Homo sapiens: one gene and its partners. The protein of the gene in region 4 purifies or fractionates together with the protein of the main gene of each other region. This does not show direct contact. Each region holds a gene or a part of one and is shown on either strand. Other genes may lie near its edges.

Region 1 (3,500 bases), on a different chromosome or scaffold from region 4:
AGCATATGAAGGTCATGTCAGGGTAAGTATGATTAAGTTGGGTTTAGATTAATCCTTTAAGATTTATTAATGAATTAAAATCAAATCCAGTTAGTTTAAGAGGATAGTTCTTGATGGAAAATTAAATGAATAAAATTCATCTAATAATTTTATTTCATCTAGAATAATGATTTGCAAACAAAAACCTAGCTTTTACATGGAAATAAGTTATAAAATGTCTCAAGTTTTTCCATATTGTTCCTATCTTGTGATGAAATCTTCATAAAGGAGTTTGTGGCCCCTGCTCTTGCAAGAGAGGTGGCATATGGTTATGAATTATGAGCTATTAAGGCATAGTCTTGTTATCTTGGGTAGTATTTACAATGTAAGCTGAACTTCATCTTACACCAAGTTTGACTTTTATGCTATTTAGAAAGAAACCCATGAGTGTTATTTTAATGAAATATGAGTGAAAGTTAAAATGGTACCATTAAAATGTTTCTCAGAATAAAAAGTCATTCTGTATTTGAAGAATGTGTTCTCACATTTTCTCATAGCTTAATGATATGTGTCTCATCTGCTACTTTACCAACCAGAATGGCAGACTTATAAAACGTGTACATTATCTGTAGGTCTTCACCATGCAATTACATATGTAATTTAAGGGATATTTTCATTTGAGTTGTTTTGGCTGTTTGTCTGTCTAAAACAAAACTAAGATTCCTAAGCCAGCTGGAGTGAAGAAAGGGTGGCAGAGAGCACTGGCTATAGTGTGTGACTTCAAACTCTTTCTGTACGATATTGCTGAAGGAAAAGCATCTCAGCCCAGTGTTGTCATTAGTCAAGTGATTGACATGAGGTAAGAGTTTGAAGGTAAAATTATTTGTATCATTGCAACATAGGAATTTTAAAGTTTCTGATTTTCAAAAATTGTGTTGCCATGGTTTATTTAAATGAACTAATTTCGTATTTTCTAATTTGCTAATATTGCTATAGAAACAGAATTGAAAATAGGAAGTAAGGTGTATTTATAGGACAGGTTGGTATGTGTGTTGAGTGTGAGGGGCTAGGAGTTAAGGAAAAAGAAGTTGGTGTCCCAAAGACCTGTGTAAATGGGGTAATGGAGGCCTACCATGTGAAGTTTATATTATCACATCACCTAAAGGCTTAGAGTATAATTTCAATGTGAGGAAAGAAAATAAAAATCAGAAAGGCTTCTGGAAAACATAATCAGTAAACATTTAAGTAAGTACAGCCCTTGAACACTTCTGGTCTCATTTTTCAGATTCTTCCTGTGTTCCTTAGTTCTCTCTCCTTTACCTTTTCTCCTAACTCCAGGCACTATCCTTGAGTGATCATATTTACTCACAGCTTCAGCCATCTCCTCTGCATTGATGACTCCCAGACTTGTATCTCCAGTTCAGATATATCCATCCATTGCTCAAAACCGGAATTTCTAGCTGTGACTCAAATTGGCACTTCACATTGGCATCTCAAACGCATTATCTTCCCCTACAAATATGGAACATGACAGGATAGATGCAAGAAATATTGGCAAGAAAAATCTGATAGAACCTACTAAGGGACTGAATATAGATAGGGAAAAGAATCACAAATAGGACTAAGGTGTCAAGCCTGTAAGACTAAGGGAGTCATGGTACCAACAACAAAATTAAGGGAATCACAAGAAATTATTGTGGAGGAAATACGTTGTAGATGTTGAAGGAACAATAAAATATAACATGAGCTGGGTTGAGGGTACTTAAGATTTATTATGGGAGGCAAGAGGGTCCACTGGAGGCTCCAGAGACCTACCAGGGTTCAAATCCCAGTTCTACGTGTATACTTAACTGGCCTTGTGACTGTGGGTAAGCCAGCAATGATTTCTAGCTCTTGTATAATGTGCCACTAGGAAGTTATTCTTGATAAATTATTTGGGGCACTATTAATTACAATGGGGGAAAATTAATTTTTTTAAAAAATTAAATTTGGGTGTTTGGTGCAGTTAAGCTTTGGGTATGTGTTATTTGGATACACACCCCAAACCACACACACATAGCCACATATAGTAACTTTTAATGCTTTGCTTTTCGTTCAGGGATGAAGAATTTTCTGTGAGTTCAGTCTTGGCTTCTGATGTTATCCATGCAAGTCGGAAAGATATACCCTGTATATTTAGGGTAAGTGTGTATGCTGTAATTTGATCACTGAATTATGTGTTTTTAATGAGTATATTTTGCCTCCCTATATAAATCATAAATTCACTATAAGTAAAACCAAATCTTATATTCTTTTATATATTCCATATCATCCAGTACTTGAAGGTATAGAAAATTGGTGCTAAGTATTTAATTAGTGAAAGACCTGGAGAAAGCATCAATATATGGCTTATAAAATATGCTTCCTGGTAGATAATATTTTTTAGTTCCAATTCAATTTTTAAATAAATACTACCACATGGAAAATTAGATAAGTGTGAGGTTTCTCAAGTTTTTAAAAAAATAAAAATGTCTGTCTTGAAAAATTAATGCGTTTGTTACTTACTGCTTTGTAACAGCCATTCCAAAACTTAGTAGCTTAAACCAACAGTGATTTACTATTTTTCACTATTCTGTGGACCAGCTGTACAGTTCTTGTGGTGTCCGCTAGTGTCACTGATGTGACTGCATTCAGCTCATTTGGGACCAGAACATCTAATGACCTTGCTCTTACATCTGGGTGCTGGCTGTTAGCTGGGTGATCTCAGTTCTCCTCTTTGTGAACTCCCTCCATGTGGTCTCTGGTCGTCAGGTAGGCTGGCTGAGCTCCCAGTGGCTGGCTTCTAAGAGAGCAAAATAAGCTGCCAGGCCCTTTGAGGACTAGGCCCAAAACAGGTATAATAACCCTTCTGCATTCTGTTGGTCAAAGCAAGTCATGAGGTCAGCCCAGATTTAAGGGGAGGGGAAATAGACTCCACCTCTTGATGAGAAGAATGGAATTCCTTAGGAGGACTTGTTGGTAGGCGTCTTTGGAGGCCCTTGCCACGATGCAATCTTGAGTGGGTAAATTAAGACAATAGAGGTTAAAAAAAAAAACTACTGCCCAATTGTTATGCCTATCTCCCTATATTTGTCTATGAATCTTGTATCTAAGGAAGGTCAGGCAAAGATTATACTTAGTCTCTTAGTTCCCAGACTGACAACTATTTATTTTCCTCCCAGCCACCAAGGGAGCCTACAGAGGCCCACTTATCTATAACTGATTTTCATAGTGTGAGTTTATTGTCACTGCTACTTAATAAGGAATTCTTTACTTATGATAAGGAATTCATATAGGTAAAATTTAAAACTGCTCTGATAGTGTTGTTTGTATAATGATAAACCTTCATTTAAATATTAATTTAAATGGTCAAATCTTAATGATAATGCGAGTTATTGTTGTGAAGTAACAGAGAATATATTTCTGAGCACTTCTGACCTTAAAACAAGTCACAAGTCAGTATGGTGTGGCGCTTAAGAGCATGGGCACAAGATCCCAGACTT
Region 2 (2,202 bases), on a different chromosome or scaffold from region 4:
GCATCTACCCACATATGAGGGGTTCACCGTGAATGTGCTATGGTGGTTACTGGCTGAAAGTCTGGGACAGGACAGCCACCTTTAAACCTGGACACAAGTTGAGCTGTTATAAAGCTGAAAGGCAAAAGCAAGAATTTAAATTTTCTACAGCAGCCTGGTTGGTGCCTGCCTTTTCCACATCAACAGTTTGGTACCTGAGTAAATGACAGTGAAGGAGGAGTGAGTAGGGGCTTGGAGCTTAACGAGGCTTATTGCTGCATTTGTGAGAAAGACCCATTTCTATGTATTCTTCACTCCACTTGCCTAGTGATCACCCCTTTCAGGTTTCTTCTAACAGTGACAACCTTGGGAATTTCAAACTAAATCTTCAGTATGATAAGGTTATGCAGGACTAAAAACTGGGTAGCAATAAATGGGCTTTAGAAAACAAAGCATGCAGGTTTTCCCAGGCACTTTCAACTAATGCAAACATATACAGTACAGAAAAGAGAAGATGTAACTTTTCTCTGAAAAAAAGGTTTATTGCATATGGAAATCAATAGATATCTTTTACAAAAAAAGGTTAGAATAAAGATCTCACATTTGTAAAGGCACATATGAAACATTTTATAGCAAGCACAAGGGCAGTGAGAACATCAACAAGGTCCAATATCTAAATAAGACTTTATAAAAACAGATAGGAAACAGTGCAAAAAATACTGTCAAAGTCAGTTCTATACACCTCATAACTGTGTATACAACTGGCAAGCATAAGCTTATTTACTGATATAAAATAGCACATAGAATAGCATGCATAGTTTTATTTTAGGCTTTTCATATTATTAAATTGATAGGGAGTCTATACCAAAGTACAGTTGACATGAATAGTGATAAAAATCACTCCCCAGCTTAGGGAATGTCCTATAAACATCTCACCCCTCCCTCTGCTTACAACTACAGTTTGGTAGTAAGGAGACTGGGCTTCCATCTTGCAAGGTGGCAAGCGGCCACCACAGGGGGCGAATGTGCTCTCAGGATCCCAAGTCCCAACCTGGAATGCATTTCTTACGGCAACAACATAAGAGATGGTGATTAAATGTCTGGGTCAGCCCACAAAAGCCAACCAGATCTGGCTATCACAGCCCTCCATTTGGGCTGTGGTGGAGGTCAGTGGGCTTCTATGGGCTGACGCAAGAACCTTAAGAACAAACCGGTTTCTAAGTTGGGGACTTGTCTGTACATCGTTTCAAAATGAAACCTAATAAATGTCATTTGTTTTGAATGATACCAAAATTCACAACATTTTGTGAAACAAAGATCAAGGAAAGCATCAAAATACTGAAGTAGGGAGCACAAGCCTAGTCCAGTGAAACAAACTAGATTAGCTTGTTACTTGATGTAACACAAGTTACATAAGGTTACACATTTATTAGTAATTTGCATATTTAAACCTTTTTTTCCACTGAAGTATCCTCAAGCACATTAATTAGCTATTGAAGGAACAAAGGACATACATAGGAACTCATCTCTGATGAAGAGTAGCTTTATGTCAGAAAGGAGAAGGCTAATGAATTTTTAAGATTCCAAACAGTGGCAAGAAAGTTCAAAGGAAATTGCAGTAAAATTGTACAATGTTCAAGTTGAAAAAAAAAATGGCTCTGAATTACAGCATTCAGTTCTATGCTCAAGGTATGTATTAGCTAACACTGCAGTTGTCAGAGGTGGGAGGCCCCTGAGAAATGCTGAGAATGCCAGGCACCCCAGTTCTGAGAGCCACCCTAGCTAAACTCAAAGCAGCATTCTTGAGATTTTAGCAAAAGGCTCCGCCCCAAGCCACAAAAAGATCCCAATCCAATCTTTTCAGCTTTATCCTCTAAAACCTTTTGTCAGATGAGATAGCATTTGTGTTTCCCAGGAGGAGAAGGTTGGGGAAGAAAATGAAGATAGCTTACATACAGATTTTGGATGACCCGCTAATCTTTCCCCTTCCTAGGTAAGTGAAAACAGATAAAATGTTTCTGGGCAGCCCAAAGGTTTACCACCTGTTTCACTAGAATGGCCAGTCTGTGTAAAGAGGCTATAATGACGAAAGCATTTTCCCTGCAGGGAGAAGCTAGAAACAAATGGGTCTTCCTATACATCAGTCTGCCAAATGCAGCCTCTCTCAATCTATATAAGTTCACCTCGAAATACATATTAAGTACTGCTGTCATCATTGTTTTA
Region 3 (3,500 bases), on a different chromosome or scaffold from region 4:
AGATCCTTAGCGAGGTTCCCCACCACCGAGCCCTTGGCCAGCTCCTCCGGAATCGAGTAGCGGATCGGCTCACACAGCGTGGGGTAGAACAAAGGCAGCAGCAAAGGAAATAGTACCTGCCGCGGGCCGGCCCGGCGCCTCTGCGCGCAGCTCCCTCCCATCGTTCGCTCGGGTTCTCGCTGGGTCCCCGCTTTTCCAGTTGGAGAAAGTGCACTCTACCGCGCTAAAAGAGCATTCGGCCCAGGACAGGAGGAGTCCCGGGTCTCGGAGCTGGCAATCTGGTGTGCTGGGCAAGGTCTGCGCAGCCGGGAGCCTCTGTGTGGGAGCTGGTTTTCTTTTCTGTTGTTGGCTGCGCAGGGAATCCCAGGCTAGAGGCTGAGGGATCCCCGGCGTCAGCGCTTGCTCTGCACTGGCCGACGGCGGCGCCCAGAGGCTCTGTGTGGGACTGCAACTTGACTTTTCTCTACCTCTTTCAAGGAATTTTTTTTAAACTACGAGTTGACAGCCAAAATATTTTAATCTTTTTCCTCAGTGATTCCTTTTACATCAGGAAATATATTTCCACTTGGTCATAACTATCATATCTTTTTATTTACTGAATTTACATATATCTTGAATAAATGAATATTTTTTCTTCAAAATTTAAAAAGGCACAAAATAATATAGCATGAAGGTTTATAGGTCTCCTATCCCACGGCCCATTGCTATCCAATTCCTCCATCCAGAGGCAGTCATTCTTGTTCCTTTTAAGAGTAATTATCTATGAAGCTGGAAGTACTGAAGATAAGCAACAAATTTTTTTGTCTTCAATTCTAGCCTATATTCACCCAGAAAGTAATAATTCCTTATTTCATACTTAAGTACTGGAATGCAACCATTGCCCTAGTCATTACCATCATCCAGGGTGTCCTGTATTGCTTTTAAATAATTATAATCAAAATATTTTCTCACAATAGCTACAATGTCAAGAGCAGTTTTTTTTAAAAAAAAAACCTGTATTTTTCAAAATAATAGAATTATTTGAGATGAATGCACAATAATTTTGACTCTCATTAACACAAATATAAAATAATAGTTTCAATGGTTTAATAGTTAATAACTATGACCCTAAAGAGTGTGCTTTCCTTCCACAGACCTATCATTCAACAAATGTTGACTGACCTGAAAAAAATCATGGAATTATAAGGGTCTTGAGAAACTTCGGAATGCTTTTTGACTTTATACTACCACATTTAGTAGAATACTAGTAATAAAATTAAGAGATCTACCTAATACGTCACTATTTTCATTGAACTAAATGAACTCATCAGTACCTCCAATGATCCTTTGTTTATATAATTTCCCTTCGTTGCATATATTCTTTTCTTTTTTACAGCTGTGGTTGGTGTTTATATTCTGATCTGCAGAAATGGCATTTCTTTCTTGACTCTAAGTTTATTTTGCCTCTCAATTTCAGAGTTTTCAGAGTTTCAGGTGTTTGCCTCCTTATACATTAAAGAGCCACTGAAATAGCTTTGTCATATATCTCTTGCTCCTGTTCTCGGGAACATGTACAAATTTATCTGTCTTCCCAACCCATATTTACTTTCAGCCTTAGTCACTAGAAAATTTAACAAAAAAGACAAAAGCAGAATCCCAAATATTCTTAATTTCACCCTCTATAGCCTCCTCAGGATCCCTATTGAGCAATGAAAGTTAAATTAAAATGCTATATCTTCCACATAGCAGTGTGAAATTAGAGAATTGTATGCAAAAAGGATACTGCAGTGTTATCAGTTATAAATAGGGCTGGAAAAATCTAAGCATACATTGTTATAAATAAATTGTTAATTCAATATTAATGAAAAACTTAGTATATTCAACTGCAACTATCACCACAAAGTATAGATTGAAAAATATATAAAATGTAGTTTGAAAAAGGCCTATTGCCCTTCTCCTTGGGAAGAACTGCATTGAGTATTCTTGGATTTGGGTTGTGTTTCCAGAGGTGATTTCTTTCTGATACTTACCTATTCTTACCAGACCTGCCTTCAGAACAAGAGGGTTGCTTAAGGGGCTGGAGTTTCAATATGTGACCACCCAGGAGGAAATATAAATTGACAGGCACTTCTGTATGGAAGTCTGTCTTAGGAATTGTCAATATTGTACTCAACAACACTATAAACTACAAGGTTCTGCAAAGCTAATCATAACAAAGCCTTATGATATATAGGCCTTGATTGAGACTAGGTGAATTTTACCAGAAAGTAAAAAAAAAAAAAAAAAAAAAAAAAAAAAAAACCTTAATAAACATCAAATTCTACTCATCAGTGTTTTAGCATTTACACTTTCCACCATCATGCCGCAAACTTCAAAGTAAAAACCAATCTTTTTTTTTTTAACAAAAGTAAAAATGAAAATAAAACTCACTGGAACCAATGGGGTATCCTCTATAGGAAACTTCGAATCATCTAACAAAGACAAAGGATCGTTTTTCTCACAGCTCTCCTGGCTGATGAGCGTGTCCGCATAATTGGGCTGGGGGAAGATCAGGTGACTCTTTCGCGAGTCCGCGGTGAGAGAGACCTCGTGGGAATAGGTCTGCAGGAAAGCCCGAACCCCGTCCACGCCCACAAAGTGCGAGCCGGACACACCTGTCAAGCCGCCTCCTGAAGCCTGCAGCAGGCGTGACTTGTGCCAGCGCCGCAGCCTGTGCGCCAGCAGCACGATGACGAAGGCCAGGAAGACGCAGGAGACCGCGGCCACCGCTACCACCAGGTACAGAGTGAGGTCTGAGGTTTCAGAGTTAGCTGGAGACTCGAAGCTGCCGAGGTCCGCCAGGACTTGGGGGATGCTGTCGGCCACGGCCACGGTGAGCGTGACAGTGGCGGAGAGAGGGGGCTGGCCGTGGTCCTGGACGGCCACTACGAGGCTTTGCTTGAGCGCGTCTCTGTCCAGCAGGGCTCGCGCCGTGCGCACCTCGCCCGTGTGCTCCCCCACCGCGAAGAGTCCCGGCTCGCTGGCCTTGAGCAGACGGTAGGACAGCCAGGCGTTCTGGCCGGAGTCTCTGTCCACCGCCACCACCTTGGTCACCAGGTAGCCGGGCTCTGCGGAGCGGGGCGCCAGCTCCACGCCTGTGGAACCGTCTGTGGGGAGGGCGGGGTACAGGATCTCGGGCGCATTGTCGTTCTGGTCCAGCACAAACAGGCTCAACGACACGTTGCTGCTGAGTGGAGGATCCCCGCTGTCGCTGGCTGTCACCTGCATCTGTAGCTCATGAAACTGCTCATAGTCGAAGGATCTGAGTGCATACAGGACGCCAGTGTCTGAGTTGATGGATATGTATGAGGACAGAGGTACCCCCTGGATGGTGTCTTCAGCCAGGGAGTAAATAATCTGGGCATTCTCTTTGCTGTCCGGGTCCAGCGCTGTCACTGAGAAGATGGAGGCACCCCTGGCGTTGTTCTCTGGGATATAGGTAAAGTAGGAGACTTGAGAGAAGGTAGGTGGGTTGTCATTGA
Region 4 (4,033 bases):
TGCATGCAGATCTATACATTCAGCCTTAACCACTAATCTGATACATGGATATAACATGTTCAGCTCCTTATAAAACACCCCAGTGTATGAGTATGTGTCAGTATGTCAAATGCATAACACCAAAAGCCAAATTCATTATCCTTACTTTTACTGCCCCAGGGGAAAAAAAATAACAACTGCAACAACAACACCGACAACAAAAGCTTCAAACAGATTGGGTTATTTACCTTTCTCTACAGTTTCCCTATACGATGCCTATAGTTCTCCATTTTCTTGTATTTACTTGCCTCACCTATGTACCTGGAATAAGCAACTTTCTGTTTTTCTTTATTTATATCCAACTCACTCTTAAAGATCTAATTTAACTGTCACATCCTCCTAAAATCTTTTCCTCTGAGCCCCCCATGGACAGAAATTAACATTATTGTTTTGTTCTGAATCCCAGGATGTAACATGGTGCCTGGCACAAGATAGGTGCTGATATTCCTGTCCCATTCACTTTCTCATCTTTCTTCATTCCTTATTTTGAGATATAGTGGTATCTGCACATGTATATTTGCATGTTAACCTCCCTGAGGTAAACTCCTTGACTAATTATTTCTTTATCTCTACCATGGACACTTGGTTGGTACGTGGTATTCCACAAATATATGTAGACATGACACATTTTAATCCCTTTCTTTTCTCAAGATATTGAAGAAGTAGGGTAAAGCCTGTGCCTAGTAAGTGAACAAAGGAGGAAAGGCTTGGACATGAGATGATATTCTTATAGTTGTCAATAGATTAACCTATATGTACAATCTTTTCTATTAGGTAGGAGGGAAAGCCATGTGGCCATCCACATCATTCATGAGCATAGGGTAGAAGAGTATACACCACCTAATAATGAAAAAGGCATACTAAGAAACAGAGTTTCCATAGTTGTCATTCAGTTTTCTTGGATGCTTTGACAAGAAACCTAAGAAAATTGAGCACTGCATATAATATGCCATTGAGCAACAGTATACTGAAAGAAACTCTATTTTACAGAATATAACCAAACACACACACACATGCACACACACACACACACACACACGCACAGTGAATATCATCATACCTGGTCTATGCCATCCTGATATGTTCACACTAGAGGTGAATTGTGTTACTGCTATGGAAGATGTGGAACTGTCAATCACTGTTCTAGCCTTGCCTTATTGTAATTTAGTACGTGACTCTGGGAAATCCACCTTATCTCTCAATTACAATTGCTTTTCTTTAAATGATAATGGGGATAAATGGTTAAATATCTGTAATTCTAAAAATCTCCATGTATATGGAGCCATGTAGAACTACAAACTCTATAGATTCCACACATTTAAAAAACATGTTTTTTTCATGGTTTGTCCAAACCATTTTATAAAATCATTCCCCATAGCTTTCACAACCTCTGACATGGCAAAACTACCTCTTTACAGGAAAACAATGACTGAGATAAAAACATCCTGATGCACCTCCACCGCCTGCCACCTCCACCATCACACACACACACACACACACACACACACACACACAGCTCTTTCCACAGGAGAAAGAAGTGAGGCATTTAAAAACAATCTTACAAAACTATTTTTAAAATATTTGTAAAATCTCTTTAAATTTCTCTAAATGAAAATCAGTGGTTTTTAAATATAGGATTTCTATATGTCTTTATTCCTGTTATTCTAATAATAATCAAGCAAGGATTTAAGGGAAATCACGAGAAGCAGCAGAGAGAAGCAAGGCTGTTGCATGCAACTTCCACCTCCTGAGTCATTCCACTCTTTAACACAGATAATGTCACATGACCTAAAATAATTTAAAATGTGAGCACCTTCTATAATATCAACTATTTAAAATGGCCACGGTTCTATTATCCCAAATCCAATAAAATACAGAAAAAATCAATTTTCATGGCAATTAATTTGTGTTCAGCATACTCCTCACATCCATACTGGGGGAGGAGGGAGGGTCTATAGTCTCATTCCAAGTCTATTAAACACATTACATAAATCTTGATTCATGTGGGAGAAATGACTTACGTATTATTTCTAAGAGGTAAAAATAAAGACATAAACAATCTGTACCATCATAGCCAGCAGAAATCGTTCAAAAGGCCTTTGGACTCAGAATATTGGCTTGCCTCTGAGGCTGCAATCAGAAGGCTCAGCCCTGAGCTTTGGCAGAGCCACTGCCATGTTAATCTGCTTCATTATATCTCTACAATTTGTTCACTGCATTAAGGAGCAGTATTTCCCTTGTGAAAGGAAAACCCATCCTTCACTTTGAAAGCTTTACCTTTAAAAGGTAAACAAATACAGCCAGAGACAGAGACCAACAGCTAGAAAGCCAAAGAAATAATAAAACACGGTATGTCATAGTCAGAGCTCATTTCAGCCTAGGAAGATTTTAAATTGCACAACAGCTAGAATTAGAGCTTTTGAATCTCTTAGATCTGAATACAAGCTAACAAAGCACACATCTTATATTAAATGTCATTCTTAACATAGATAACAATCCGTGGATAAGTCAAAAATAGAATCATGCTGGCTTACCTGAAATAAAGAAAAATGTAAATCATAACACAGAATCCACGTATGTGTTGAATATAACAGTCTCCAATGCAATTCTTCAGAATTTTTACTGGAGTAGAAAGTAAAATCTCACATGTGCTCTATCCTCATTAAAGAAGAAAAAAACAAGAAAGGATGACCACAGCATCCTCCCTCCTTTGCCTTAGCTTTCTGTTCTGACAGTCATTCGATGGTACCCAATGTCTGTTAGAAAACAGCATGCTAAATTAGAAAAATAAATAAATAAAGGCAGCATCTTACATGACAGCTCCATCTCCTGGTCAAAAGTGGAACCATCTTAATTCACGTTCCTTTGGCTATGTAGCAGTCAGCACATAAAATTAAATGATGTACAGCCCATAATTCCACTCTATTTGAAATCAACTACTTTAATTAACTGTAATTTAAACATTTAAGAAGAATTATAGTATGAATTTTTAGAATTATAATTCTATTTTGGGGATTCAAATTTCTTTACATTATGTTTAAACTAAATGGAAGCTTTTCCCATCATTGAAAACTTAAGATTTATTTAACTTTATATACCATCTGAAAAAGTAATATGTATCTCCTATAAAACAATTTTAGATGTCAAGCTTATTGATAATGAACATCACATCTCTTTGTGGAGAAGTATAAGTTTTTGTCACTAGAGAAGTTAACACATAACACTTGTGTTGCTATTGTTTGGAGGAATGTTGAAAGGTTAAAGATAAGGCAGGAAAATTAAATGACTTAAAGGCAAACTTGAAAAATCTTTAGTTAATCTAATCTAACTACAAAAATACAGACGACAAGTTACATGCAACATGAAATTTGATAATTGTAGTAGTATACTATAGTGTGTAGTTACATCTTCTTAGAGAGATAAGAGAAAATTAAATTGTCAAAAGAATCCATTTGGTAAATGACACCATTTATAGAATCAAAGTTTTACTGAGCATATGATGTTCTCAATATATGTTTGTTTAATTAATTATTCTTCTTATGAACAGTTGTGAAGGCCAGGATCATTTTTTTAAAATTTGAAGTAAAAGGATAGGCATTTTTTTTCTCCCACTTTTTTACAACACCATTTTAATTTGGGGCCAAATCGATCTTTAATTTCCTATTGCAGTAACGCTGTCCATGGTGCTGAGAACCAATTTTAGAACTCATGGTGAGTTCTAGGTCTTAAACGGGTCTGAAATACTGTCTTTGTCAGATTTGATATAAAATTTACCATTAAAAGTCCCCAGATCAGCCAGAATAATTGATAGTATCTAATATAAAAATAGTTAAGTAATTTTTTTATCCACAAAATATGTATATACACATGTCCATCAGAAGCCAAAATGCTGATAAATACATTTAATAAAATACATGATTGCAAGCTACACTTTCTTTGGATTCATAATATTTTATTTTCTGTGTGCTAAAGTTATACTGAATAGATTGCTTTA
Region 5 (3,500 bases), on a different chromosome or scaffold from region 4:
TTCTTTTAGCATTTACTAGATAAGGAAAGACCTGAAAAGGCAAATACACTGGGCAAGAACCCTGGTGAAGTCTGACACTCTCTCATTCCCAAAGGCCACCTCAATACCAGGCAACCCACAAACCAGCTGTGGTTAATCTGTACAAGTTGGGCAAAGTCTTCCAAACTTTTATTATGTCAAATCCCTATTTAAAAAAAGTTTTATTATGTATCTCCAATATATGCATATTTATTTATTAATTATACCCATCTGTATCTGTGTACAATGTAAAACAAAATTGTTTAAAATAGAAGTTTTAAAAAGATGACACAAGGATGAAATAATTTCTACCTTTCATTTATGAACAGTACAAAAATATTTTTGATCTAAGAAATTATCAATAACAATGCTTTGAGAGAACATAACTGAAAAGTTTCATTTTTTTAATCTTCATTAAAAAAACAAAAAAGTTTTTTAAATAAATAAAACCTTCATTTAACATTTTATGATACAGTGTTTCAAAGGTCCAGTTCAAAGTTCAGGATTCATTTGATTTTGAAACTTAATTAATGGCTATAAACTGAAAAAACAGACCTTACAAAGGCAGAATACTCATAATATATACACTTACAGTCAAGTTCATTGTGACTGACAGTAGATGTAAAACCTTACTTCAAAGAGTTAGCTTAGGCCAGGAGTGGTGGCTCATGCCTGTAATCCCAGCACTTTGGGAGGCTGAGGCAGGCGGATCACGTGAGAACAGTAGTTCGAGACCAGCCTGGCCAACATGGTGAAGCCCTGTCTCTACTAAAAATACAAAAATTAGCTGGATGTAGTTGCGCGCGCCTGTAATGCCAGCTACTTGGGAAGCTGAGGCACAAGAATGGCTTGAACCTGGGAGACGGAGGTTGTAGTGAGCTGAGATCAGGCCACTGCACTCCAGCCTGGGTGACAGAGCAAGACTCCGTCTCAGGAAAAAGAAAAAAGAATTAGCTTAATAATTTTTAAATTTTTGGCGAACTTCTTGTCAAGTCTACTAAAGTGTTATTGTTTTTATCTGTAATTTGGCTGCCAAAAAGCTAGTACTAGAAGGAGAAACCTCAGCTCTGTTGTCATTTTCTTGTTGTTCACTTGTGCTTGCATTATTGGTATTACTGTTATGGAATCTTTACAGGAGTCTTTTTAAGACATGTCTATTTCCTAGCGGTTGATTTGGCTAAAACTAGATAATAATTTATAGATTCATTTAATTATGCACCCATAACTGGATTAATGATTATCTGCCAAAGCGAACAAACAAGTGAAAAAGCCACTGGCAATCCTTCTGTTTTCTTCAGTATACCTGTGCATGACCTCCTTAGCAGGGGTACTGCATCAATCCATTTATTAAATACTAGTAAAATTGTATTTCTTCCTTTTCTTATGCATAAAAATAAGTAAAATTAACAGTTCTGTCTTCCCTTACTTTTCCTTTTTTTTTTTTTTTTTTTTTGAGATGAAGTCTTACTCTGTTGCCAGGCTGGAGTGCAGTGGCACAATCTCAGCTCACTGCAACCTCCGCCTCCCCGGTTCAATCGATTCTCCTGCCTCAGTCTCCCGCGTAGGTGGGACTACAGGCATGCACCACCACACTCAGCTAATTTTTGTATTTTTAGTAGAGATGGGGTTTCACCATGTTGGCCAGAATGGTCTCAATCTCTTGACCTCAAGTGATCCGCCTGCCTCGGCCTCCCAAAGTGCTGGGATTACAGGCGTGAGCCACCGTGTCCAGCCCCCTTACTTTTCTAATACTGTCTTCTCTTTACTCCATGGGAGTTTTGGGCACACTCCTTTGGGGCCTACAACTCAAATATACCTGAAATCCTTACCCAGCACAACTCAATCATTCTCTTAAATGCTTCCCAGATTAGGACTGAATTTGAAGCTAGGACTAAGTTTCCATGGTCACCCCAGGTCAAATAAGATTCTTAGGTTCTTATGATCTGGGCCTTCACCCAAAAGCTGATCCAAAACCAACCTTCAGGATAAACGGACAAGTATAATCTTTCCAGCATACTCACGCTGACACACTTAAAGATGATAAAGAATAGTTATAGCTTCCTGTCTTTACAACATTCATTCACTCACTTAAGAAACATTTGTAAATGCCAACCATCTCATTGACGCAATCATTTACAAGTGTTATCTTAAACACACTATACTATACTTTGATTTACAAAAGTGTCTGAAAGAAAAAGTGTGGTTTGTGCCCCATCGGGTGGCCAAACTGGATATTTCAAACAAGTTGCAGCAACTCAAGTTAAACCTACCTAATCAACATAATACCTTTGGGAAACTGAAGCCTGTAACACAAGTGTTCCCATGGGAGAGTTCTATAAATGAAAATCGTTAATAATGTTATGGTAATGTCTCCTTATACCTGAATATAATGGAAGTGTAGTTCATGCAGAACCTCTCCTTTCCAAAATCCTGCAATAAAAAATTAATTCATCGTCATCCCTTTTTAAGTTAAATAAGAGAGTTTCACTGGGTTAACATCTTATTCACAGATCAAAATATCAAAAATTTTTGAAAGGATATTATTAATTTTAAAGGATGCTATTAATACTCCTGTTAAGTTCTGTCCTCTTCATATACCAAACATAATAAAACCATTTAAAAACACAGAATTTTAGAGCTGGATGAGTCCTTAAATAATACGGGGGTTGTGAGCTTAGAAATCAAGTCCAATTCTCTAACATTAAAGAAACTCAGATGTTTCTTAGCTAAAAGAAGAAATGGTTTCATCAGGATCACACAGTGTGACCGGACTCTCAATGCTTACACATGCTCAAGAGACATATACACATATTCCTAAACAAGTGGCTTAACCCCTCTGGACCTTAGTTTCCTTGCCTGGAAAAACAAGGTAGATAATCTTTAAATTCCCTTTTAGCTCTAAAATCCTGTAATTTAGAAACCTTGTTATTTTATTACAAAACAAAGGATACACTGAAAAAAATCATTCCTGGGTCCTGAGAAACCAAAGAAACACAAGGCCCTAGGGAAAGTCAGCAGCCTAAGGCACCAAATATATTTGCTTCTTCTGCTAATATTCTGCAAAATATTAACATGGTCATATTAGTCTATTTGGTTGAAACCAGTCTCAGTTAATTTTGATTAATCAATTGCAGAGCTTTAAAATATATAGTCACTAATTCTAAATTTTAAAAAAGCTCTTACAAAGATTTACCGGTGTTCTATTTTACATGTCAAAATTTATACTCAAACAGATTACTGGAAACAGGAATAGTCTCGGCTTGTTTGTGTTTATTCTTTGCACAAACTACTTACAAATGGATTGAAGAGATTTTCTTTATATGGCTTCTCCATGTTGGTCTGTTATTTTATGCTTTATTATTCTGCCTATGAAGACTGAATCTATGAACACCACAACTTATTTTTAAATTAAAAAACATAATAATTTTCAGGATATTGATGGGTTATTATCATTAATAATTTTATCAGTTCAAGGAATAAAA
Region 6 (3,500 bases), on a different chromosome or scaffold from region 4:
TCATTAACCACTCTTGATTCATAGTTATCATCAGGCTTTGATGCAGAGAAATCGCTGTGGATCTCTCTCCTCCTAGCCAGCTAGGGGGCATTTCTTAGCTGCTTCTCCCCATCCTCACCTAGAGAAGGCATACGCAGACAATGCACATCAGAGACCTGTTGGAGCGGCTCTGTGGTGGGTTACAAGGGGGCGGCAGCAATACAGAAAACACGACCATGATCTTGGCTCTCATTAGACTATGCAACAGATGTGCCAGCGTCTCCTCTCTTCTTATTTGTGTCCAGTGCTACCCAATGTGAAACTGGCTCAGACCCTGGGCTATTGAGTAGGTTCATTTCCCTCCCTTGACACCTCCCTTCCTTTTCCTCCAACCCCCACTTCTCTGCCCCCACCACTTGCTAATCTACCTCTTGGCTTTGTGCGCACATCCGCCAGCCCATTCGCCCTCAAATTTGCGGCACTCCAAGAAATCAATATAACATGAATTTAACGACAGCTGGATGATTAAGTGTTATTTATATTTAAAAGCGGCATTTTAAAAAGACGTCTCACTAATAAATGGCTGTTTGGGAGATGCACATGATTAGGGTAATTGGCCTATAGGCTCTATCGAGCTATGCTTGGTCCACACAGGGCCCTGTGGACAGGACACTGTCTCTTTAAAAGCTGCAAGCTCCACTGCTCCCTCCCCAGACTCCCACCTGATCCCCTCTAGCTGCACAGACTTTTTCTTTCTTCTTTCATGTTGTCCTCACTGCCCAGGCTGTACCATTCAAGTTGCGGTAGGAAGGTGGAGCCCACAGGGAGACTGAAGGGGGCTCTGCTGCTGAGTGGTAAGAGATGGATTTTAAAACGAAAGGCAGGCAGGGGTCCTGATTCCCCTGGAACAAGAGCCCAGGCCTTGTTCCTGAAGGAGGAGGCTGCTTCCCTGCATGGCATGGAGCAGCCTGGAAGAAGAGTTTCCTGAGTCCCTATGTGAGTCTGTGTATGCCCCCACACACTTGTCCGGTCCTGTGGCATCAGCCTCCCAAAGGAAGAGGCTGTGAGGATGTTAGTACTGGCTTCAGTTCTTGTAAAAACAATGGAATGGAAGATGATAATTAATGATGATGGTGGCCAATATTTATTGAGCACTCATTTGGTTTAGATACCATTTAAGTAGTTTGCCTCATAACAACCCAGATAGGCTATTACGGTCCCTATTTCCTCCAGGAGGAAACTGAGATGCAGGAGGTTAAAGACTTTGTCCCAGATCACACAGCCACTTAGTGATGGAGCCAAGTCTCACTTGTGAGCAATCTGACCTTTCTCCTCATCACTGTGCTGGTTTCCTCCTTAGAATATATGTGCTCACTGTACTGCTGCCCCCTTGGGAGGTTTATGGGTGAGTGCTTGGGAGGAAGTTTAGAATATCTGGTCCCTAGTCTCTTGCACTACCTCTGTGATGCCAGGCAAATGTATTTATTCACTGAGCCTCGATTTCCCCATTCATCAAGGGGGATGAGTCTTCTCCTTGGCTGTTGGTAGGTTATAAAATTGCATGGATCATTCTAGCAGAATGCTCAGGTCCTGAGGGTGACTGTCACCTCATTTGGCAATTCCCATTTTCTCCCAGGAAAAAATGAGTAAATGAATGAATGAGTGAAGTTCCCATCTTTACTTTAGACTCTATGAGGCTCCAATTCTGATAGGAGTCTAATTCTCCCTGGTGACTGCTTCAAATTGCTAGTATTGTGGAAACAACACTTCCTCATTTCATCTTTAAAATAGCTGTGCAAGGTAGGTATTGTTTATTCCCATTTTGATAGCATAGAAGCTAAGGCTGAGAAGAGAGTTTAGGTGAGATGTCCAAGGCGCCAGGTTGCTAAGGGATGGATGGTTTTTTCACTCTTGGGCAAAGATTCTTACCATTACACCACTCACGGTAGGTACTTGACACTTGTTCATTCATTCATTTATTACTCCTAGAGTTTCTGACTTCAGGATCCAGAAGCAGGGAAGAAATCAGTGCCTAGGGACATCATGCGGTGCTGGGTGCCTGGATCCTATGGTGGTTGCAGCAGAGACTCATCGCATGTTGGTGCCAACGGACCATGTCAGGGGATAGCCATCCTGTAGCACTTAGAGGAATTTTGATAGGTCCCCATTTGCATGAAGAAAATAATTCAGACCTGAGATGGTGCAGGCTAAGGCAAGGCATTAGGAATTACATCCTGATGCAAAAAGGTGTGGGTGTGAATCCCTGAAGGAGCCCATGGGCCTGGTTGGGTTCTGTCCCACTCCAAAGCCAGGGCTAACCTCAGTCCCTCTGGTCTGAACATTTTAGGAAAAAGCCACAAGTGAGGCACTTTGGTTACTTGCCTTTTTTTTTTTCTTTTTCTCCAAAAGACAAACTTTTATTCCATGCATTATTTCTTTGACTTCTCTACACTGTGAGGTGAGTAAAAGTTCTGTCCAACTTGAGGTGGCTAGAAGGGGTGCACGTGGAATTTCATCACCTCCCCTCTGAGGCAGCAGTAGGAATGAGTGGATAAAACATTGGGAGGTAAAGTCCTGTGCAAACTGAAACCAACAGGTGTTGGAGAGATCTCAGGCATCCTCTCTTTTCCTTCTAAGCTTGGATCTTCCCCTCCCCCTCTATGGTGTTTCCTCCATGAACCAGGATTCGCAACAGCAAATTGGATTTTGGGATGTTTTGTCACTCCAACACAAAACAGATCACTAGCTAAGAGGATAGTCTCCGCAGTCAATGCGCTGAACACAGCCTCGCTGAATCAATTCCCGAGGTCTTACAGGGTAGAGTATTTTCATTATGAAGTATGAGGAGAGAAGCAGTGGAGGAAGAGGTCGCTGGAAATTTAGGACAGGAAAACCATGGCAGTTGAAAGGCTTTCCTGGTCTTCGCTCAAGATCAGTTCCTTATCTGACATACTCACTGAACTCTTCTCGAATGAGCACAGCTGGATTTCCCTTTTGGTAGTGTGGAGGCTCAAACTAGAAGGTGAACCAATCATTCCTTGGCTTTGACCCAGAGGCCAAGAGGAAAGAAGTAAGCAAGGCATAGCTGGTGGATTGCTTCCGTTCTTGTGGCGGGGTTAGAGAGTGAGAGAGGAGACAGTAGCAGACGTCAGGATGTGCAACTGAAGCAGCCTGCCTGGAATGTCAGCTAATGTTGCTAGAGTCAGTTGGAGTTCGTTTTCTTCCTCTCCATCTCAGGCCTGCTTTCCTGAAAGTAATACTTAAAATAGACTAGAGTTTCCCAAAGTATATTCTGCGGGGGAGTCAATAGGCATTACATGCAAAAAAGTTTCCGCAGTCAAGTAAGTTTGCAAAACCCTGGGTGTAAAGCAAAGCTAAAGATACTCCTTGCTGCAGGACTTCTCAGAGCCTTTAATACACTCACATGGATTGTGAAATCACAAAAGTATATAAACTGTGTAGTGGACCTGGAATCCACTGAGAAACACTGGACTAAGACAAGCACTTTGCTATGACTACTG
Region 7 (3,500 bases), on a different chromosome or scaffold from region 4:
AATGGGACTGGGAGTGAAATTATGGCCTGAGGTCTGATCAGCCACAGAGAGGCTAAGGTTTGGGGTTCTGGGTGTGGTGCAGTAGTGTGCCTTTGATTAAATGGCTTCCCTCTGTGTGCCCCCGTTGTCCCCTCAGTAAGTGGGGATAAAATGCCCTGATTCACCCTCAGAGGGATGGAAATGTGTAGCCACAGAGTGGGTTCTTGCGGCCTGCAGAGGAGGCAGCTGAGAGCGAGGAGGATGACAACCTGTCGTCCATGCTGCACCAGCGTGCTGAGATCCCATGGCGAGCCTGCGCCAAGTACCTGTCCTCCGCCGGCATCCTGCTCCTGTCGTTGCTGGTCTTCTCACAGCTGCTCAAGCACATGGTCCTGGTGGCCATCGACTACTGGCTGGCCAAGTGGACCGACAGCGCCCTGACCCTGACCCCTGCAGCCAGGAACTGCTCCCTCAGCCAGGTGTGACTGGCGGCCCATGGCAGAGGTTGGGAGTGGGGATGGGGGAAGGGCTGAGCCCATGGGCACCCTGGAACTCCAAATCACTCTCTGCCTGTGAAGGAGTGCACCCTCGACCAGACTGTCTATGCCATGGTGTTCACGGTGCTCTGCAGCCTGGGCATTGTGCTGTGCCTCGTCACGTCTGTCACTGTGGAGTGGACAGGGCTGAAGGTGGCCAAGAGACTGCACCGCAGCCTGCTAAACCGGATCATCCTAGCCCCCATGAGGTACCCGTCTCCCCTGGCCAGGCTGGGACTGTGAGCAAGTCACTGTTCTCTGAGCCTTAGTCTTCCCATCTATAAAATGGGGATATACAACCTGTCACAAGCTTGTGGGGGTGACTCAAGGAGACAGTGTGTGTAAAAGTGCCCTCCTTGTGCAAGAAGCAGGGAGAAACTGGCATTTACTCAGCCAGATACTGTGATAGGCATTGTGTGTGGTTAGCTCATTTAATTGTTACCATGGCCCTTTAAAGTGAGCGTCTGCACATCCAAGTAAAGATTGTTTTCTCCTCCCTAAGTGGGTGTAATTTGCCCATCCCCACCCATGAGTTCAGCTCCCTGCCCTCCCCTCACTCTCTCTCCCTCAGCCAGCCTCAGGTTTTGACACTGGGGGAACAGGTAGCTGTTCTATTAATAATTTCCTGTAATGGGATGGATAAAAATCTCAAAGGCCACTTGATGTCAAAGAGGTTTAAAGTTGTCCCTGCCCAATTGGTTGGCCAACTTGGCTTAAAAACACAACAGGCAAACAGATTTTCTGGCCCCTTGTCGAGGCTAGACCTCACAATCTAACTGCACTTTTTACTTTCCAGCCTCATGAGTTTTCTGTGGCCCACAGATATGGCCTCCAAGTTTATTTACTTTTACTCTCTATTTGCCCCAGCTCTGTAGTTCTGAAACTCCCTGGTTGGGGTTGGGCTGACTCTGGGTCAGCCAGCCGGCAGGCTGTCCCCAGGGCCCTGTTCCTCTTGGCAGGTTGTCCCTCTGGAGAGGACTCTGTGTCCCAGGAGGACAGCTGCTGAGTCAGGCCGAGCCGGCAGCTGAGAAAGGCGGCAGTCGTCAGATGGGCTTGAGAAACTGAAAGGCTAACGAAAGGCCAGCGCCCCTTTGGGCAGCTGCAGGAATTCACGGGGATACAGGCCAGATGTCTACAAATTGGCAGAGGATGCCAGACCCATGAATGACTCCAGAGACACTTACATGAAATAATTAACTATCTCATTCAGTAAACAGGAAGTAAATCAATGGACAAATGAGTAACTCTTCCTCTGGCTGCCTCTTAGGTTTTTTGAGACCACGCCCCTTGGGAGCATCCTGAACAGATTTTCATCTGACTGTAACACCATCGACCAGGTACAGAGGACCGTGCCACACTATCCCCCCTTCCAGAGACACCTCGGACCCCTGGGGGCTTCTCCTGTCTGAGGCTGGGTTCCCCAGATCAGGTGATCACAGCCCTCTGGGAAGAAGCCAGTGTCCCCGATCCGATTATAATGCTGCTTCAGGGCTGGGGCCTCCCTCGTGGGAGCCTCACAGTAAGGCTGAGGGAAACCAGATCCCTTTAGCTTCCACCTGAGATCCCACTGGCTTTCTCTAGTAAAGTTCCAGCATATTCTGAACCAAGGTGGCTGATTGTATGGAGAATATTCATTTTGATTCAGCCTGTGTTCTTTATTTACCATTGTACCAGATGGTGTGAAAACAAAATCTTGATTCCTACCTCAGGGAGTTTACCTTGTAGCTGGAGAGATGAGATACGTGCCTATAATAAAGGGAGAGCAAGGCCGGGCTCAGTGGCTCACTCCTGTAACCCCAGCACTTTGGGAGGCGGAGGCAGGCGGATCACTTGAGGCCAGGTGTTCAAGACCAGCCTGATGGCCAACATGATGAAACCCCTTCTCTATTAAAAATACAAAAATTAGCCAGGTGTGGTGGCAGGTGCCTGTAATCCCAACTACTTGGGAAGCTGAGGCAGGAGAATCATTTGAACCCAAGGGGCAGAGGCTGCCGTGAACCGAGATTACGCTGCTGCACTCAAGTCTGGGCAACAGTGAGACTCAGTCTCAAAAAAATAAAGGATCAAAAAATAAAGTGAGAGCAAAACATGGCGGCCAGTAGCACTCTAAACACAGTCAATACCAAAATTCACCTCACTCTCTCCCCCTCGTCTCCCTCAGCACATCCCATCCACGCTGGAGTGCCTGAGCCGCTCCACCCTGCTCTGTGTCTCAGCCCTGGCCGTCATCTCCTATGTCACACCTGTGTTCCTCGTGGCCCTCTTGCCCCTGGCCATCGTGTGCTACTTCATCCAGAAGTACTTCCGGGTGGCGTCCAGGTGATGGCCTCAGGGGTGAGGGGTGGGAGGTGCTTTGCAATGTGCAGTTTGGTGTACTTGCTAGACTCATCGTTATGAGAGTAATAGGGTCGTGTTCCCTCCAAAAAATAAAAACAAAAAACAGAAATGAAGGAAATAGAAATATCCACATCTTATTCCACCGCCCTAATATAATAGTCTGCCAACACACGCACACACTGAGGTTGACATCTGAATTATTTCCTTGGGCGATATGGTCAGGACTGGAATTGCTAGGTCATGATAAATGCACATTTTATGCCCTTCATTCATTTTGCCAACATGCTTCCCAGGAGGGTTGCATCATTCTAGTGGTCAGGCTGATTGCTGATGCATGAAATCGGCGGGCACCTGATTCAAGCAGTGTTATGATAACACCTCCCAGCCCACGTGAGTCCAGAGTGTAGCTGTAAGCCTTGACTTGAGGGAGCCTCTCACAGCCATTCTCATGGATCACATTTGCCCTCATGAGCTTTGGATCCATGCACGCCTCTTTCCTCCTCAAAATTTTCTAAGAATGTTCTCTAGGGAGTTCTTTCTGGGAGTGATTCTCCCAGATTCATAGAAACTCATAGATTCAAAAAATTGTAGGAAAAAATTTAAAGAACGTCTAGGCCAGTGTTTCTCAAACTGCCAATTACAGCCCAT

The links.
Region 1: the proteins of SCN2A (region 4) and CDC42BPA purify together in Homo sapiens (affinity purification with mass spectrometry, with the first as the bait; one large-scale study listed by BioGRID). This does not show direct contact.
Region 2: the proteins of SCN2A (region 4) and PTPN14 purify together in Homo sapiens (affinity purification with mass spectrometry; one large-scale study listed by BioGRID and IntAct). This does not show direct contact.
Region 3: the proteins of SCN2A (region 4) and PCDHGB6 purify together in Homo sapiens (affinity purification with mass spectrometry; one large-scale study listed by BioGRID and IntAct). This does not show direct contact.
Region 5: the proteins of SCN2A (region 4) and XPR1 purify together in Homo sapiens (affinity purification with mass spectrometry; one large-scale study listed by BioGRID and IntAct). This does not show direct contact.
Region 6: the proteins of SCN2A (region 4) and PLXNA4 purify together in Homo sapiens (affinity purification with mass spectrometry; one large-scale study listed by BioGRID and IntAct). This does not show direct contact.
Region 7: the proteins of SCN2A (region 4) and ABCC8 purify together in Homo sapiens (affinity purification with mass spectrometry; one large-scale study listed by BioGRID and IntAct). This does not show direct contact.

What each region holds. Positions count from the first base shown.
Region 1 is NC_000001.11:227,031,993-227,035,492, reverse strand, and holds part of CDC42BPA (serine/threonine-protein kinase MRCK alpha), read left to right. Parts: coding exon 1-22; intron 23-698; coding exon 699-838; intron 839-2,077; coding exon 2,078-2,159; intron 2,160-3,500. UniProt on the Homo sapiens protein: Serine/threonine-protein kinase which is an important downstream effector of CDC42 and plays a role in the regulation of cytoskeleton reorganization and cell migration. Regulates actin cytoskeletal reorganization via phosphorylation of PPP1R12C and MYL9/MLC2.
Region 2 is NC_000001.11:214,348,200-214,350,401, forward strand, and holds the end of PTPN14 (tyrosine-protein phosphatase non-receptor type 14), read right to left. Parts: 3' UTR 501-2,202; downstream 1-500. UniProt on the Homo sapiens protein: Protein tyrosine phosphatase which may play a role in the regulation of lymphangiogenesis, cell-cell adhesion, cell-matrix adhesion, cell migration, cell growth and also regulates TGF-beta gene expression, thereby modulating epithelial-mesenchymal transition.
Region 3 is NC_000005.10:141,414,521-141,418,020, reverse strand, and holds part of PCDHGB6 (protocadherin gamma-B6 isoform 1 precursor), read right to left. Parts: coding exon of another isoform or gene 2,293-3,500; exon of another isoform or gene 570-2,292; intron 345-569; exon of another isoform or gene 162-344; coding exon of another isoform or gene 1-161. Other genes in the region: PCDHGB7 (protocadherin gamma-B7 isoform 1 precursor), read right to left, coding at 1-161; PCDHGA10 (protocadherin gamma-A10 isoform 1 precursor), read right to left, coding at 2,410-3,500. UniProt on the Homo sapiens protein: Potential calcium-dependent cell-adhesion protein. May be involved in the establishment and maintenance of specific neuronal connections in the brain.
Region 4 is NC_000002.12:165,238,181-165,242,213, reverse strand, and holds the start of SCN2A (sodium channel protein type 2 subunit alpha), read right to left. Parts: upstream 2,801-4,033; 5' UTR 2,574-2,800; intron 1,155-2,573; exon of another isoform or gene 1,100-1,154; intron 1-1,099. UniProt on the Homo sapiens protein: Mediates the voltage-dependent sodium ion permeability of excitable membranes.
Region 5 is NC_000001.11:180,635,022-180,638,521, reverse strand, and holds part of XPR1 (solute carrier family 53 member 1), read right to left. Parts: intron 1-3,500. UniProt on the Homo sapiens protein: Inorganic ion transporter that mediates phosphate ion export across plasma membrane.
Region 6 is NC_000007.14:132,569,971-132,573,470, reverse strand, and holds part of PLXNA4 (plexin-A4 isoform 1 precursor), read left to right. Parts: intron 1-3,500. UniProt on the Homo sapiens protein: Coreceptor for SEMA3A. Necessary for signaling by class 3 semaphorins and subsequent remodeling of the cytoskeleton. Plays a role in axon guidance in the developing nervous system. Class 3 semaphorins bind to a complex composed of a neuropilin and a plexin.
Region 7 is NC_000011.10:17,403,846-17,407,345, reverse strand, and holds part of ABCC8 (ATP-binding cassette sub-family C member 8), read left to right. Parts: intron 1-136; exon of another isoform or gene 137-216; coding exon 217-458; intron 459-557; coding exon 558-724; intron 725-1,782; coding exon 1,783-1,852; intron 1,853-2,676; coding exon 2,677-2,834; intron 2,835-3,500. UniProt on the Homo sapiens protein: Regulator subunit of pancreatic ATP-sensitive potassium channel (KATP), playing a major role in the regulation of insulin release.